Linked DNA regions of Homo sapiens. The protein of the gene in region 1 interacts with the protein of each later gene in a pairwise test. Each region holds a gene or a part of one and is shown in the gene's direction. Other genes may lie near its edges.

Region 1 (8,179 bases):
TTTTTCCTCTCTCCAAAGAGTTATTTGATCATTTTAAATGTCTTTAGCTTGTGAGGACTCTGCTGTTCTTCAGTATCCAAGGGGCATTGGTCCCAGGACAGCACTCTTCCCCACAGGATACCAAAATCTGTGGATGCTCAAGTCTCTGATATAAAATAGTGTCATATTTGCATATAACATGCACACATCCTTCCATATACTTTAAATCATCTCTAGATTACTTATAATACCTAATACAATGTAAGTGCTGCAAATAGTTGTTATATTGTTTTTTATTGTATTTTTTATTGTGCTTCTCATGTATGTATGTATGTATGTATATATATATATATATATATATATATATATATATATATATATATATATATTAATTTGTATAAATTTAAGGGGCACAAGTGCAATTTTGTTACCTGGATAGTTTGTGTAATAGTAAAGTCGGGGCTTTTAGTGTAGCCATCACCTGAAATAATGTACATTGTACCCATTAAGTAATTTCTCCTCCCTCGCCCCCTCCCACCCTTCGGTGTCTATTATTCCGCCTTCTGTGTCCTTGCATACACATGTTAGCTTCCATTTGTAAGTGGGTACATGCAGTATTTGGCTTTCTGTTTCTGAGTTTTTTCACTTAGGATAATGGCCTCCAGTTCCATCCATGTTGCTGTAAAAGACATGACTTCATTCTTTGATATGGCTGAGCAGTATTCCATTGTGTTTATGTACCACATTTTCTTTATCCAGTCATCTCTTGATGGGCATTTAGGTTGATTCCACGTCTTTGCTATTTTGACTATTACTGTGATAAACATACATGTGCAGAAATCAGTGTACTGATTTCTTGTTCTTTGGGTAGATACCCAGTAGTGGGATTGCTGGATTGAATGGTAGTTTTATTTTTAGTTCTTTGAGAAATCTTCATATGTTTTCTATATGAGGTTGTGCTAATTTGCATTCCCACCAGTGTGAGCATTCCCTTTTCACCACATCCACGCCAGCATCTGGTTATTTTTTGCCTTTTTAATAATAGCCATTCTTACTGGTATAAGATGATAACTCTGATGATGAGTGTTTTTCCGAATACTTTGGACCCACGGATGGGATGCTTGAACCCACAGGTGTGGTAGGCTGACTGTGTGTGTTGTAAGTGTCTTTTGTTTCTCTTTTTACTTTTGGGGGCAACATCAGATACGGAGGCAGAGCTGCCGTGTTTGACAGTCAAGGAACATCCTTCACATAGAATACGACGATGGCACCTCTGGAGCTGGGTTAAGGAACCCTCCCTGGTGCAGCATGTTGCCGTCGCAGGTCCATCCAGTGCCCTCCCTGTTTCATTCACGTGCTCTTCTTACCCATTCTCCCTCCATCCTATCCCTTCGCACCATCCTCTGCCATTCTCCAATGGTTGCTGTGATCCTCTTGTTAATTTTCTTGTGAACGTGTACTGCTTGCTCTGCAGCCGTTTTTATTTCACATAGGTGGTACAGAATTCTGTCTCATTTGATTTTGTTTCTCACTCGGCTCTGTGTTTGTAGGATGCGTCTGTGCTCGCTATGTTCCTCGGCTTCCTAACTGATGACAGTGCCCAAGGCAGCACCCATCACATTTCGCCCACGGGCACCCTATACCCTCCCCACACAGGTCCCCTGGCCTCAGCCCCTCAGTGCTTTCACCACAATGAGTTCTTATTCTTGTCAAGAGCTCTCACTGGGATAGTATCACTGCCTTTTGGTGTGCTTGCTTATTTTCATTTGTTGTTCACTTCCTGGAGTTCATACTTCACTCTCACTTCAGATTCTCCAGGGTCGATCCAGAGATCTGAGGGAGGGAGCCAGGAAGCCGGGCTAGTTCATCACTTTACCAGGAGCTGGCTTGCCAATTTTTCACAATCTAGATTATAATTTTTAAGTAGTTATTTATATATTGATACTTGACTTTTTTCCAAACTAGATGACTAAAAATGTCATTATAGCAAGAGCTTATGGAAAACGTTAGAAAAATTAAAAAAAATTCTGTTTATTAAGTACAGGGCACAAATGGAAGGGCATGATGCCTTTCAGCCTCCAGATGGCACTGTGATTGTAAGAACCATGTTTTTTCTGGACTTTTTGTCAGTTGCTTTTTTTTTTTTCCTTCTTTTTTTGAGACAGGGTCTCACTCTGTCATCCAGGCAGGAGTGCAGTGCCATGATCATAGCCCATTGCAGCCTTGAACTCATGGGCTCAAGCGATCCTTCTGCTTCTGCCTCCTGAGTAGCTGGGACTACAGGTGTGCACCACTACACCCAGCTAATTTTTTTAATTTACTTTTTTTTATAGAGACAAGGTCTCACTATGTTGTCCAGGCTGGTTTCAAACTCCTGGGCTCAAGTGGGCTCAGCTGCCCAAAGTGCTGGGATTGCAGGCCTGAGCCACCATGCTTGGCTAGTTCTTGATCTAGAACAGAAGGCAGCACACATTGCCTGTAAAATGTCAGTGGTGAATATATTAGGCTTTGTGGGCCAGATGATCTGTCACAACCACACGGCTCTGCTGGTGCAGCCTGAAAGCAACCATAGATAATACACAGGCAACTGGGCACGGCTGTGTTCAAATAAAACTTTATTTATAAAAACTGGTGATGTGCTGGATTGGGGTTGTAGTTTGCTGACTCCTAACTAGAATAGTGATTTTTTTTTTCTCACAATTTTATCATTGATCGACATATAGGCTACCAGAGTTCTCTTCATTGATACTGAACCAGTCTCTAGAGGTGGAAGGTGATGGTTGGGAGGTTGTAAGGGCTAAGGCCACTGGCGTGCCACCTTTCAGGGCAGAAATTGTGATATGGTTTGGCTGTGTCCCCACCCAGATCTCATCTTGAATGGTAGCTCCCATAATTCCCACAAGTTGAGAGAGGGACTCAGTGGGAGGTAATTGAATCATGGGGCAGGTCTTTCCCGGGCTGTTCTCATGAAAACAAATAAGTCTCATGAGATCTGATGGTTTTATAAAGGAGAGTTCCCTGCACACACTGTCTTGCCTGCCGCCATGTAAGACATGCCTTTGCTCTTCCTTCGTCTTCCACCATGATTGTGAGGCCTCCCCAGCCATGTGGAACTGAGTCCATTAAACTTCTTTCCTTTATAAATTACCCAGTCTTGGGTATGTCTTTACTAGCAGCATGAGAACAGACTAATGAGAACGAGTAGACTCTAAGCTAGGTAAGGGGAAGGGGAGACAGGCAGAGCATCCCCACCCCACCCCAACCCTCTGAAATCCAAGTAAGCAGGCAGACATACTTCCTTAGCTTTATTATATGTCTTCTCTCTTTCTCTCTCTTTTTCCCAGAGTAAACTTCATAGGAAATAAGTTTTCACCATAGTGTTCACATCCCTTCTCAGGGTGGAAGTCACCCACCATTTTAAAAACTAGAGCAAGAAGGGCTGGACTTGGTGGCTCATGCCTGTAATTCCAGCAGTTTGGGAGGCTGAGGCAGATGGAACACTTGAGCCCAGGAGTTCAAGACCAGCCTGGGCAACATAGTGAGACTCCCCATCTCTACAGAAATTTAAAAATGAGCTGGGCATGGTGGTGTACACCTTTGGTCCCAGCTACTCAAGAGGCTGAGGCAGGAGGATCACTTGATCCCTGAAGATCAAGGCTGCTGCAGTGAGCTGTGATCGCACTACTGCACTCCAGCCTGGGCCACAGAGTGAACCCTGTCTCTAAAAAAAAATAAAAACAAAACAAGAGTCCCTGGGCCCTTTGAATAAAAAGAGAGTAAAGAGGCTGGGCACAGTGGCTCACGCCCGTAATCCCAGCACTTTGGGAGGCTGAGGCAGGCAGATCACTTGTGCCCAGGAGTTTGAGGCCAGCGTGGGCAACATAGCAAAATCCCATCTCTCCAAAAAAAAAAAAAAAAGGAAAAGAAAAGAAAGTGAGTAAAGGCTTTTGGGTTATAAAGAGAAAGGGAGAAGGATGATCCAGACTAGAAAGAAGATTATTCCTTTCTTAGCTCAACCTTTTTGCTCCAAAAAAAAGAGGAGGAAGGGGCCAAACATAGATTATCCTGCACCAGAGGGCCAGCTCCTTAAATCTGAGTCTCATCCCAACCACCATCATTTGTAAAAACCAAGGGTGCATTCATTACCTGCAGTGCGTGGATCCCTGTGGTGCCATCATTATCATTTGAAGCTCCATCTCTGAAGCCTCTAGCTTTGTAAGGACCTACAGACCACTTCCCAAGTCATTGCAGGTTTATTTTTGTCGCATTTGAGCATAACCTCAGATTTGGCATACAATACGAATGTCACCTTGAACAGCTTCTCCTTGAATGGGGGCCTACTCTCCCCAGGTGCAGTGAGCACCGTCGTCTTTACATGAGTGGGCCTACACCACCCTGCTGAGTAAATCCATCTGTTCTGTTTCAGTAACTGTGGCCTCTACAAATGGGAACGGGACGGAATGCTAAAGGTATGCCATTTGCGTACTAATTTTTGACTCCTTTTAGTGACCCATGCTAATAATGTGGAACCATCTCCTATTAAAATATTTTCATTTTTCTAGGAAAAGACTGGTCCAAAGATAGGAGGAGAAACTCTGTTACCAAGAGGAGAAGAACATGCTAAATTTCTGAACAGCCTTAAATAACCCGAACTTCAGACATTTTCCCACAGACTTCCTGGCCTCCTGTGACTCTGGAAAGCAAAGGATTGGCTGTGTATTGTCCATTGATTCCTGATTGACGCCGTCAAAAACAAATGCTTGTTAAGCCCATAAGCTTTGCCTGCTTACTTTCTGCCATTGGGTTGGTTTGATACCACATTTAACATTGACATTTAAGTGGAAAACCAAGTTATCATTGTCTTTTCTAAGCTCAGTGTGGATGATTGCATTACTTCATTCACTGAAGTTTTTGCCCAAAAATTGGAAGGTAAACAGAGAGCTATGTTTCTGTATCTTTTGGTTATAGAGTGTTCACTTCTTTATCATAACAAAATTCTAGTGTTTATACGAACACCCAGAGGCAAAAGAATTTGGCTTAATTCTCACTCCAGGTAAGTAGCTTAACTTCTGGGCTTCAGTTTTCTCATCTGTAAAATCAGGAAGATTGGACTAAGTGATCCTGAAATGTATTTTTTAGCACTGGATTTCTACAAATAATAAAACTTTCCCATCTAGATAATGATGATCACATAGTCTTGATGTACGGACATTAAAAGCCAGATTTCTTCATTCAATTCTGTTATCTCTGTTTTACTCTTTGAAATTGATCAAGCCACTGAATCACTTTGCATTTCAGTTTATATATATAGAGAGAAAGAAGGTGTCTGCTCTTACATTATTGTGGAGCCCTGTGATAGAAATATGTAAAATCTCATATTATTTTTTTTTTAATTTTTTTATTTTTTATGACAGGGTCTCACTATGTCACCCTGGCTGGAGTGCAGTAGTGCGATCGCGGCACACTGCAGCCTTGGCTTCCCTGGGCTCAAGCAGTCCTCCCACCTCAGTCTCCCAAATAGCTAGGACTACAGGCGTGCGTGACCAAGCCCAGCTAATTTTTGCATTTTTTGTAGAGATGGGGTTTTGCCATGTTGCTCAGGCTGGTCTCAAACTCCTGAGCACTAGCAATCCACCCACCTCTGTTTCCAAAAAAAAAAAAAAAATGAAAGGTCAACCCCTATGCAAATTACCACAGCAAAGGTTTCATTCAGGAGATTCTTCCATCTGGGCAACCTGGTTTTCCAAATATCATTTGACCTAAGTGAATGTTGATACTAGCTAAAGATTGGGTAAATTGGTTGAATTATTGTATTGAAGCTTGAGCTGTAGCTAAAAGTAATTTAGGTTTCCCCTAAGATGTTATTATGTTAGGGACATAACACTTTTGGGAGGTTGTTGTGGGAGATGGTTGATTTAGGTTTTCAAAAGCTAGAAATAAAATTTACATGCCTTAGATTTCATAAAATTCTGCTCTAATTGGGTGGAAGGTGCTGTATCTAACTTGTGTTCCTCCTAAGGTTATGTCCTAATAACTATTCTTTTAGGAGTATACTTCTACTTTATAGAAGGTTGCTTTTCTTTTTAATTTTTTCTAACAAAGAAAAGAATAAAGTATTTATTAATAAGAACCAGAAAGCACTTGAAACTGATGTTTTTAATGGCTCATTTAGGGTAGATTTATTTATCTCATTAACTTAAAACAGCTATGTGTATGAAATAGGTCACAACAGAACTTGAACACCAGGTTGGTGTCTGAGCAATCCCTTTCTTATGGGAAAAACAATGTTCTTGTTTGAACAGAGGGTATCATTGCAGTCAGTATTCACGTGTATATTGTTATATAAGTTGTATAATATGCTTGTAAAGGCTGAGGGTGAGCTGTATCTGGATGCCTTTTTACAATTTGATTTTAACTTTTAAAATAAATTTAAAACATAATTGTCACTTCTTAGTTTTGCTCAATCTTGGGGGACTTTGCTTTGAGGTGCTCTGTGCATGTGCTTTCTTAGCATATTTGGGGATGAGACGCGGTCGGTAGGGGTGGGGTAGGGAAACTTGTTATTTTATTTTACTTATTTTTTTGAGACAGAGTCTTGCTCTGTCACCCAGGCTGGAGTGCAGTGGCGCAATCTTGGCTCACTGCAACCTCCACCTCGTGGGCTCAAGCAATCCTCCCACTTCAGCCTCCCGAGCAGCTGGGATTACAGGTGGGCGCCACCGTGCCTGGCTAATTTTTGTATTTTTAGTAGAGAAGGGGTTTCACCATGTTGCCCAGGCTGGTCTCAAACTCCTGGCCTCAAGTGATCCACCTGCCTCAGCCTCCCAAAGTGCTGGGATTACAGGCATGAGCCACTGTGCCCAGCCTAATCCTACCTTCCTTATCAACCTTTATGAAATGCTTTCATGCAAATCCAACATATGTGTTTTATTTTTCTTAACCTGTCATTGGTAGCGTAGGGATTAAATGTGTAATCACAGGCCACTGGAACAGGTAAGTACACAGTGATCTGAACTAGCAAACAAAAACAACCGTGTCCTTCAAGGAGAACCTGGTTGATCTAAAGTTAATAATCTTCACAATAGATTTTTTTTTTCTTTTTACTGTGCCTTTTTCTGTTTAGAGGAAATAAATGGCTTTCTAAAGAAAATCATCTTTGTCTCGAGTTTCGTTAAAATAAATTTTCCCTTTCCAAACATCAAAAGGAAATCTGAAGTATTTTAGATACCAACCATCCTGAATAGCAAATGAGGAACTTCTGAATAATGGGTGTGGAATTTTCCCCAAAGGGAACTTCAACATTCAAAGCTTCAGGCGGACTGATGGATAACAAACTTGACAGGAAGAGATCGCATGGATTGGGTTTCTGTGTAGAAACTGGTGATGACAGAAGTAAAGCTTGATGTTTGTAGCAGGTGAAATCATACCTAATGACATTTTAGAAAATCTGGAGCACAAATCTATGTGCGTAAGTATATCTCTAGTAGCAACCCATTAGGTGTAAAATAGACTTCTCTGATCCCATGGCTAGAGATTTGGAAATAATACAGCTTTCAAGAATGATGGGTGAAATCTGGCTGGGCGTGGTGGCTCATGCCTGTAATCCCAGCACTTTGGGAGGCTAAGGCGGGTGGATCACCTGAGGTCAGGAACTGGAGACCAGCCTGGCCAACGTGGTGAAACCCCGTCTCTACTAAACATGCAAAAATTAGCTGGGCATGGTAATGCACACCTGTAAGTTGGCTAAGTAATTTGGAAATAAGATCTGAAACAGAATTGGAACCAAATCTGTGGGAATGTTGCTTGACCAAGACTTCTATGGTAGGTTTTTGGTTTTTTCGGAGTCTCACTCTGTTGCCCAGGCTGGAGTGCAGTGGTGTGATCTCGGTTCACTGCAACCTCCGCCTCCCAGGTTCAAGCAATCCTCCTGCCTCATCCCCCCTAGTAGCTGGGATTACAGGCACGTGTATAGTGATATTTTTAAAATCAACTGTGTTAAAGTATAAATTTCTTACAGTAAAAGGCGCATATCTTAGGTGTGCAGTCAGCTGCATTTAGACAAATGTATACATCTGTGTAGCCACACCACAAGCAAGATACGAGACACTGCCATCATCCCAAAAGGCCTGTACCTCTTCCCAGCCCCAGCCCCAACCCATCAGGCATCTATTTTCTGTCACTATTGTGTAGATTTGTCTTT
Region 2 (6,071 bases), on another chromosome or scaffold:
ATGGGTGCAGAGACAGGGACTGAGCCGAGCCTGGATGGGTGCCCTCCCCCACCCCCACTCCCGTCTCCTCCAGGTCATTCAAATGGGGTGAATCGGACCCGCTGCCTTACGTGGTGTATGGCCACACAGTGCTCTCCCACATGGACCTTGTCTACGTAATTGGCGGCAAAGGCAGTGACAGGTGAGGCTGGGCCTGGAGTGAGTCTGTGGAGCAGAGGTAGAATCTCCCAGAGGCTGTCAGGGGTTTGTCCTGGCTGCCCCGGCAGGTGATTGCAGGGAGGCGTGGCTGGGCTCCTGCTTCTCTCCACCCATCCCCACCCTCCACCCCACAGGAAGTGCCTGAACAAGATGTGCGTCTATGACCCCAAGAAGTTTGAGTGGAAGGAGCTGGCACCCATGCAGACCGCCCGCTCACTCTTTGGGGCCACTGTCCATGATGGCCGCATTATCGTGGCAGCTGGGGTCACCGACACAGGGCTGACCAGTTCTGCCGAAGTGTACAGCATCACAGACAACAAGTATGAAAGCTTGTCCCTTCCGCCAAGGACAACTGCATGGCTTTGGGCTTCTGTCAGCCCCAGCAGGAGCTGCAGTCCCTGTCTTGGGTCTCCAGTGTTGACTTTGGACATCAGTATAGAAATAGGCTTTCTCTCCTGATCAGCAGTGAGGTGGGGAGGCGGGGCAAGGGTTATGGCCAGCCTGGTCTGCAGGAGGGGGCTCCCAGGGCTGGGGGAGGGGATGCCAGGTTCCTCATTCAGGGACTCATACCAGGCAATGGCCTGGTGCAAGGGATATAGCAGTGAACAAGACAGAAGCTGCCCTGCCTGGGACATCAGAAAAGAGAAAACTGAACTGAGAGACAGTTGGACTCAGCTCGCAAAAGGGGTGAGGGTGGTGGGAGGAGGTTGCCCCAGACTAAGGAAAGGTGGTGCTGAGGCAGTTTGGAGAAAAAACTCAAGGCCTATAGGAGGGAAGGTGTTGCTCCAGCTGGGTGGAGGTGGGTGGGTGATGGAGTTGGGATGGCGGTGCTGGGGCTGGAGCGGGGGCCAGCAGGAGAGGGACTGTATCTCATCTGTGTTCTACTAAAGTACTTCATGGCAACTGATATAGAGAGCAGATTAGGGATTTCCCAGGGGTCAGGAAGGTCAGGGGTGATAAAGGCCTGGAGCTGGGGGCACAGCGGAGATGGGGTTGAGGGGATGCACCGGACAAAGACAGGCCAGGGCTTCTTACACTGTGATGGGCATGCAAATCTCCTGGGGATCGCCTTAAAGTGCAGATTCTGATTCTCGGTATGCGGAGGGCTGAAAGCCTGTAAGTCTGCATTTCTAACGCACCCCCAGGAGATGCTGACGCTGCTGGGCCATGAACCACACTTTGAGTAGCAAGAGTCTAGGAGGTGGGAGAAACAGGGCTTAGCTATTGATTGGATGTGGGGGTGAGAGGGGGAGAAGTACATGCTTCTGAGTGAGGGTGGGAGGCCATTTACTGGATAATCATTGGGATTGGGTAGGGAAAGTGAGGGTCCAGTTAGGACATGTGGACTTGAAGTACCTGGGGGTGTCCAAAAGGACCCCACCCGGGAGAGAGAGGGCTGAGCTGGAGGGAGAGATCTGGGGGTCAGTAGCACACGGAGGGGCCAAGCTCCCTCAGGAGAGAGAGTGTAAATGGGAGGAGCTGAGGTCCAAGCCCTGATGGTGGAGGCAGCTGCATTATCCAGGAAGGAGGCCACGAAGGTGAGGCCGAAGAGATGGGTGAGGAAAGTCACGTCAGCAGGGCTGTGTGCTGTAGGACCTCAGTGCGTGTGCAGTGACTGTGGACCTCAGGAAGGTCAGTTTTGGAGGATGGGACTAAGGCCCAAGGCAGGAGCCAGGGTAGCGAAGATACATTGAGAACAACTGGGCTGTGAAGGGAGAAGAAGGATAGAGCAGGTGTGCAAGGTGGGTGGGGCTGCAGGGGCCGCTGAGGGGCAAAAGGACTGCGTCCAGGGCAAGGCTGGGGGCCTGCTAGGGGCTGGGGTTGTGAGTTGGAGGGTGGAGTTAGTTCAGGAGAGGAGTAGGGGCAGTGGGGAGATCCATGGTGGACTTTGCTGGACAGGTTGGATAGAATGGCAAGAGGACAAGGAAAGGAAAGTGGAGGAGCAAGAGAATGGGGAAGGAAGGGAAGACCAGAGGGACAGGGAAGGGGAATGGGGTTGGGGGCATGGGTGCCTGGGACTTGGATTGCAAAGGGTTGCAGTTGGAGCTGTGGGTGCTGGGTGGCAGGGACAGTCACTGGGCTTGCCGAGGCATCCCAATGATGCACCTTCTCACACACCCCCAGGTGGGCACCCTTCGAGGCCTTCCCACAGGAGCGTAGCTCACTCAGCCTGGTCAGCCTGGTGGGTACCCTCTATGCCATTGGTGGCTTTGCCACACTGGAGACGGAGTCTGGAGAGCTGGTTCCCACAGAGCTCAATGACATCTGGAGGTGAGTCCCACCCTGGGGAGGCAAGGGGGCATCATGAGCAAGGCTGACACCCCATAGCACCATGGTGGGGTACCAAGGCACTGGGCAAGCTCCTCTGGGGGCAAAGCGGATCCCTCTTCTAGGGAGTCCTGTAGGGAGGAATAGCCAACATACCCTGCTTGGCCGTTTCTCACCAGTTTGTTGGGAAAGTCTGGGCTTGCACAGATGACACCATGCCCCACTGTGGAGCAGCAACAGTGTTGCAGATGGGAGCAGACCCAAGCTTAGGTCATAGACTCACAGAAACAGGGCCCAAATAGCAGCCGGATTTTCTTCTCTCCTGCCTTCCGGGTGCTTGGTCTGGAGGGAGGGCTGCCACTAGGGCTGGGAAACAGTTGGAGCCCTGGCCTTTCAGAACCATTGCTCTCTATGGCTGGTCCTTTGTGGGGGTGGGAGAAGGAAACTTTAGCCTCTGGGGCATCTCCTTCCTGAACCTGCAGCCATCTGCACTGCTGCAGGCAGCCCCTGGGGAGCAGTGCTGCCGGAGGCTGAGACGTGAGACTTAGTAGAAATGGAGCATGGAAATTCTCAAGGAGAGGACATTGATGGGGTGGTGTGGGCAGTGTAGACCTTCCTGGAGGGGAACTTTGAGGAATATGGGAACACCCCTTGAGAGGTGATCTTTCCTGGGGAGAAAGACCCTTCCTGGAGTGTGGGGTGGGTGTTCCTTGGGGTGGGTCTTGTGGGGGGTCTCCTTTCCCAGAGCCTGGGGATTTTCAGGAGCAGATCTCCCTAGAGATGGGCCAAGTGCCCTCAGCCACCCCTCTCTGCTGCGTTCCACTCTGGACTCAGCTGACCAAGCTCTCCATCCTTGTCCCCACTCTCTCTCATCCCCAGGTATAACGAGGAGGAGAAGAAATGGGAGGGTGTCCTGCGGGAGATCGCCTATGCAGCAGGTGCCACCTTCCTACCAGTGCGGCTCAATGTGCTGTGCCTGACTAAGATGTGACCAGCTCAGGCAGACTGAACTAAGCACCCCTCCCATCCTGCGACCCTCACTGGCCTGGCCTTGTGGGGGCTCCAGAAAAGAGGCTAGGAGAGGCCAGAGTCTACCTGGATCCAGTTATGGTGCCTCAGGGGCTGCGTCAGCCAAGGAAAGGGAAGTGCTGCTTAGTCCTGGACTTTTGGGCAAGGGTGAGAAACTAGAGGCTTCTCCAGTGTTGCCATATCCCCCTAGGTTGTCTTGATCCATGAACCAGAACCACAGGGCGGTATCCCAGGCCGTGTGCTGGCCCTGCCCCAGCCTAGCTGAGTGTGCTGGCAAAGTTCCCCACAGGACTCAGCCTTCTCGTCTGTCCGATGGGAGCATCCCCATCAAGTGCAGTGTACAGTGCAGATATGTCTCCTTCTTTAGGAAGAATAAAGTGCCTTCTGAGCAAGCAGCTCAGGGTCTGCATCAGTGCTCCAAGAGTCAGTGAGCAGGTGTGTTGAAGACTTGGGGCTTCAGTGTTCTGCTGTTGGGCTGCCAAGGTCGATGGTCTCTGCTCTCCATCTGGTGTCCCCTCCACCCTATGGGTGGGAACCCTCCCCTGCCTGAGGCCTAGAGCCTCCAGCTCCTCAGCCACTATGGACGTGGAGCCAGGGGACTGTGGGAAGAAGGGTCAGGGAACAGCCAAGCTGTTGTAGAAAAGTCTTTTATTCTATCGGTCAGGCCCCATCTGGCCCAAGAATAGCTGAGCAGAGCCCATCCCTCTACCCGCTCCCTCCTACTCCGGCTTCTCTTTGTCCTGCTTCTGCTCCTCCTCCAGTGCCAAGGTTCGCTCACGCTCCTTTACCAGCTGGACGCCACAGTAGGTGACAAACAGGATGGACAGCGTGGTCTGGGGGAACCCTGTGTGGGGAGGGAGTCATAGATGCTCAGGAGCAGCACTGCATCCTCAGCGACTTTTGTCTTCCCACCCCTCTCCCCGCTTGATGGGCCCTCCCTTCTGAGTCCCAGGGGTGATGAGGGAGATAGGAGGCATTTTGGAAGGTCACGGTCCTTGAGGCTGATGCCTGGCACCTTCTGTATCCCCACACCCCTGTCCCTCACCTGTGAGTAGCAGGCGCCGGGCAACCAGCTCTGTGAATTTGAGGCTGTTCAGGCTCACAAGGTTGTACATGATGATGGCCCAGAAGTTCATGGCTCCAAACAGGGCCCGGACCCTACGGGACATCTGCACTGACAGAGAGGCCTATCCGGTCCAGGAAAGCATGGGCAGCGGGACAAGAGGCCAAAGGAAAGAGGACATGGTGGGTCAGCAGCCTTACCCACCTGGCCAGTCAGGTCTTGGGGCTATGTCTGGGTCTCGGAGAGCCCCAGGTCAGCTCTCCCTCCTTGTTAAACATGGGGAAACAGGTCCAGAGAGAGGACAAGGCCTGACCAACATGGCAAGGCCCAGGTGCTCCATTCCTCATAGAAGGGAGGGAGGGGCAGATTCCTACAGAGTGAGCCATTGCTCTGACAACTAAGAGGGTGGTGGTGAGAAAGTTCTGGATTAGGGGCCAGGTGTTTGGACAACTCCAGAAAGCAGCAGTGCCCCCCCGCCCTCTATGACCCAGCCAGTCCCAGCCCCAGGTCTTCCCTGCTCACCTCAATTCGTGCTAGGGGCCCCCACTCTGCCAGTTTTTGCATCCAGAGCTCAAAGTTGAGGCCAAAGCAGTTAAGGAATGACCACAGGTAGACAATGTCACAAGGCCCAAGCCACAGTGTGGTGATGGCAAATGTGGCCACTGTGGCTGCCAGCTCTGGGATCACAGCGGAATGCTCCCCACCAATGTGGTTATACACATATCTGCAGGAAAGATGGGAGAAGGGCCACTGGGAGTGTGGGAAAGGGCAGGGATGAGATGGGAGAGGACACACAACAGGGCGTCCTCCTCAACACTGTCACCCTGGGTGCATTCAACATTCCTGACCTCACGTAGCAGCTCCTCCTCCAACCAACTTCAAATTGTGGCAGGCTCAGCCTGGGACATTATAGCTTCTCTATCTCTGTTCGTTTACTTCCCAAATGATCTCATCCAGACCCAAGATTTCAAGTACTAGCTCTATGACGATGACCCCTAAATCTGTGTCTTTAGCCCAGTCTCTCCTGATTTGTATATGCAATTGCTACTAGCCATGTCACTTGATTGACAGATTCCCCTATCCCTGCTCAAACCCAGCTCCGTCCTCATCTCAGTGAATGGCACCACCATCCATTCAGTTGCTCAGGGTATAAGCCTTGGTGCCATCTTGGATTCTCAGTTTGCCTCATCACCCACATCCAAGCAAGCCAGCAAATTCTGTTGGCTCCTCTCAGTCCTGACCACCACTCACCTCCTCTACCACCACCACCCTAGTCAAGATGATCACTCTTCTCACATAAATTATTGCAAGAGCCTCTTAAGTGGTCTTCTTGTTTCTGCTTTTGCCCCCATGGTTCATTCTCCACACAGCAGCCAGAGGCATCTTTTAAGAGTGTAGCTCAGGTCACATCACTTCCATGATTAACCTCTCTGAATAGCTCCCCATTACAATAGGAATAAACTCAGTCTCTTTACTCTGGCTAGAAGATCCCAAGTGGTCTGGTTTCTGTTCC

What was found. The genes of interacting proteins can lie anywhere in the genome.
Region 2: the proteins of MCM10 (region 1) and KLHL40 interact in binary tests that used the Homo sapiens proteins (3 or more experiments, as listed by UniProt).

The regions. Positions count from the first base shown.
Region 1 is NC_000010.11:13,204,686-13,212,864, forward strand, and holds the end of MCM10 (protein MCM10 homolog), read left to right. Parts: intron 1-4,405; coding exon 4,406-4,448; intron 4,449-4,541; coding exon 4,542-4,625; 3' UTR 4,626-6,425; downstream 6,426-8,179. UniProt on the Homo sapiens protein: Acts as a replication initiation factor that brings together the MCM2-7 helicase and the DNA polymerase alpha/primase complex in order to initiate DNA replication. Additionally, plays a role in preventing DNA damage during replication.
Region 2 is NC_000003.12:42,688,537-42,694,607, forward strand, and holds the end of KLHL40 (kelch-like protein 40), read left to right. Parts: intron 1-73; coding exon 74-181; intron 182-332; coding exon 333-518; intron 519-2,322; coding exon 2,323-2,469; intron 2,470-3,345; coding exon 3,346-3,457; 3' UTR 3,458-4,008; downstream 4,009-6,071. Other genes in the region: HHATL (protein-cysteine N-palmitoyltransferase HHAT-like protein), read right to left, coding at 4,215-4,339, 4,541-4,682, 5,081-5,282. UniProt on the Homo sapiens protein: Substrate-specific adapter of a BCR (BTB-CUL3-RBX1) E3 ubiquitin ligase complex that acts as a key regulator of skeletal muscle development.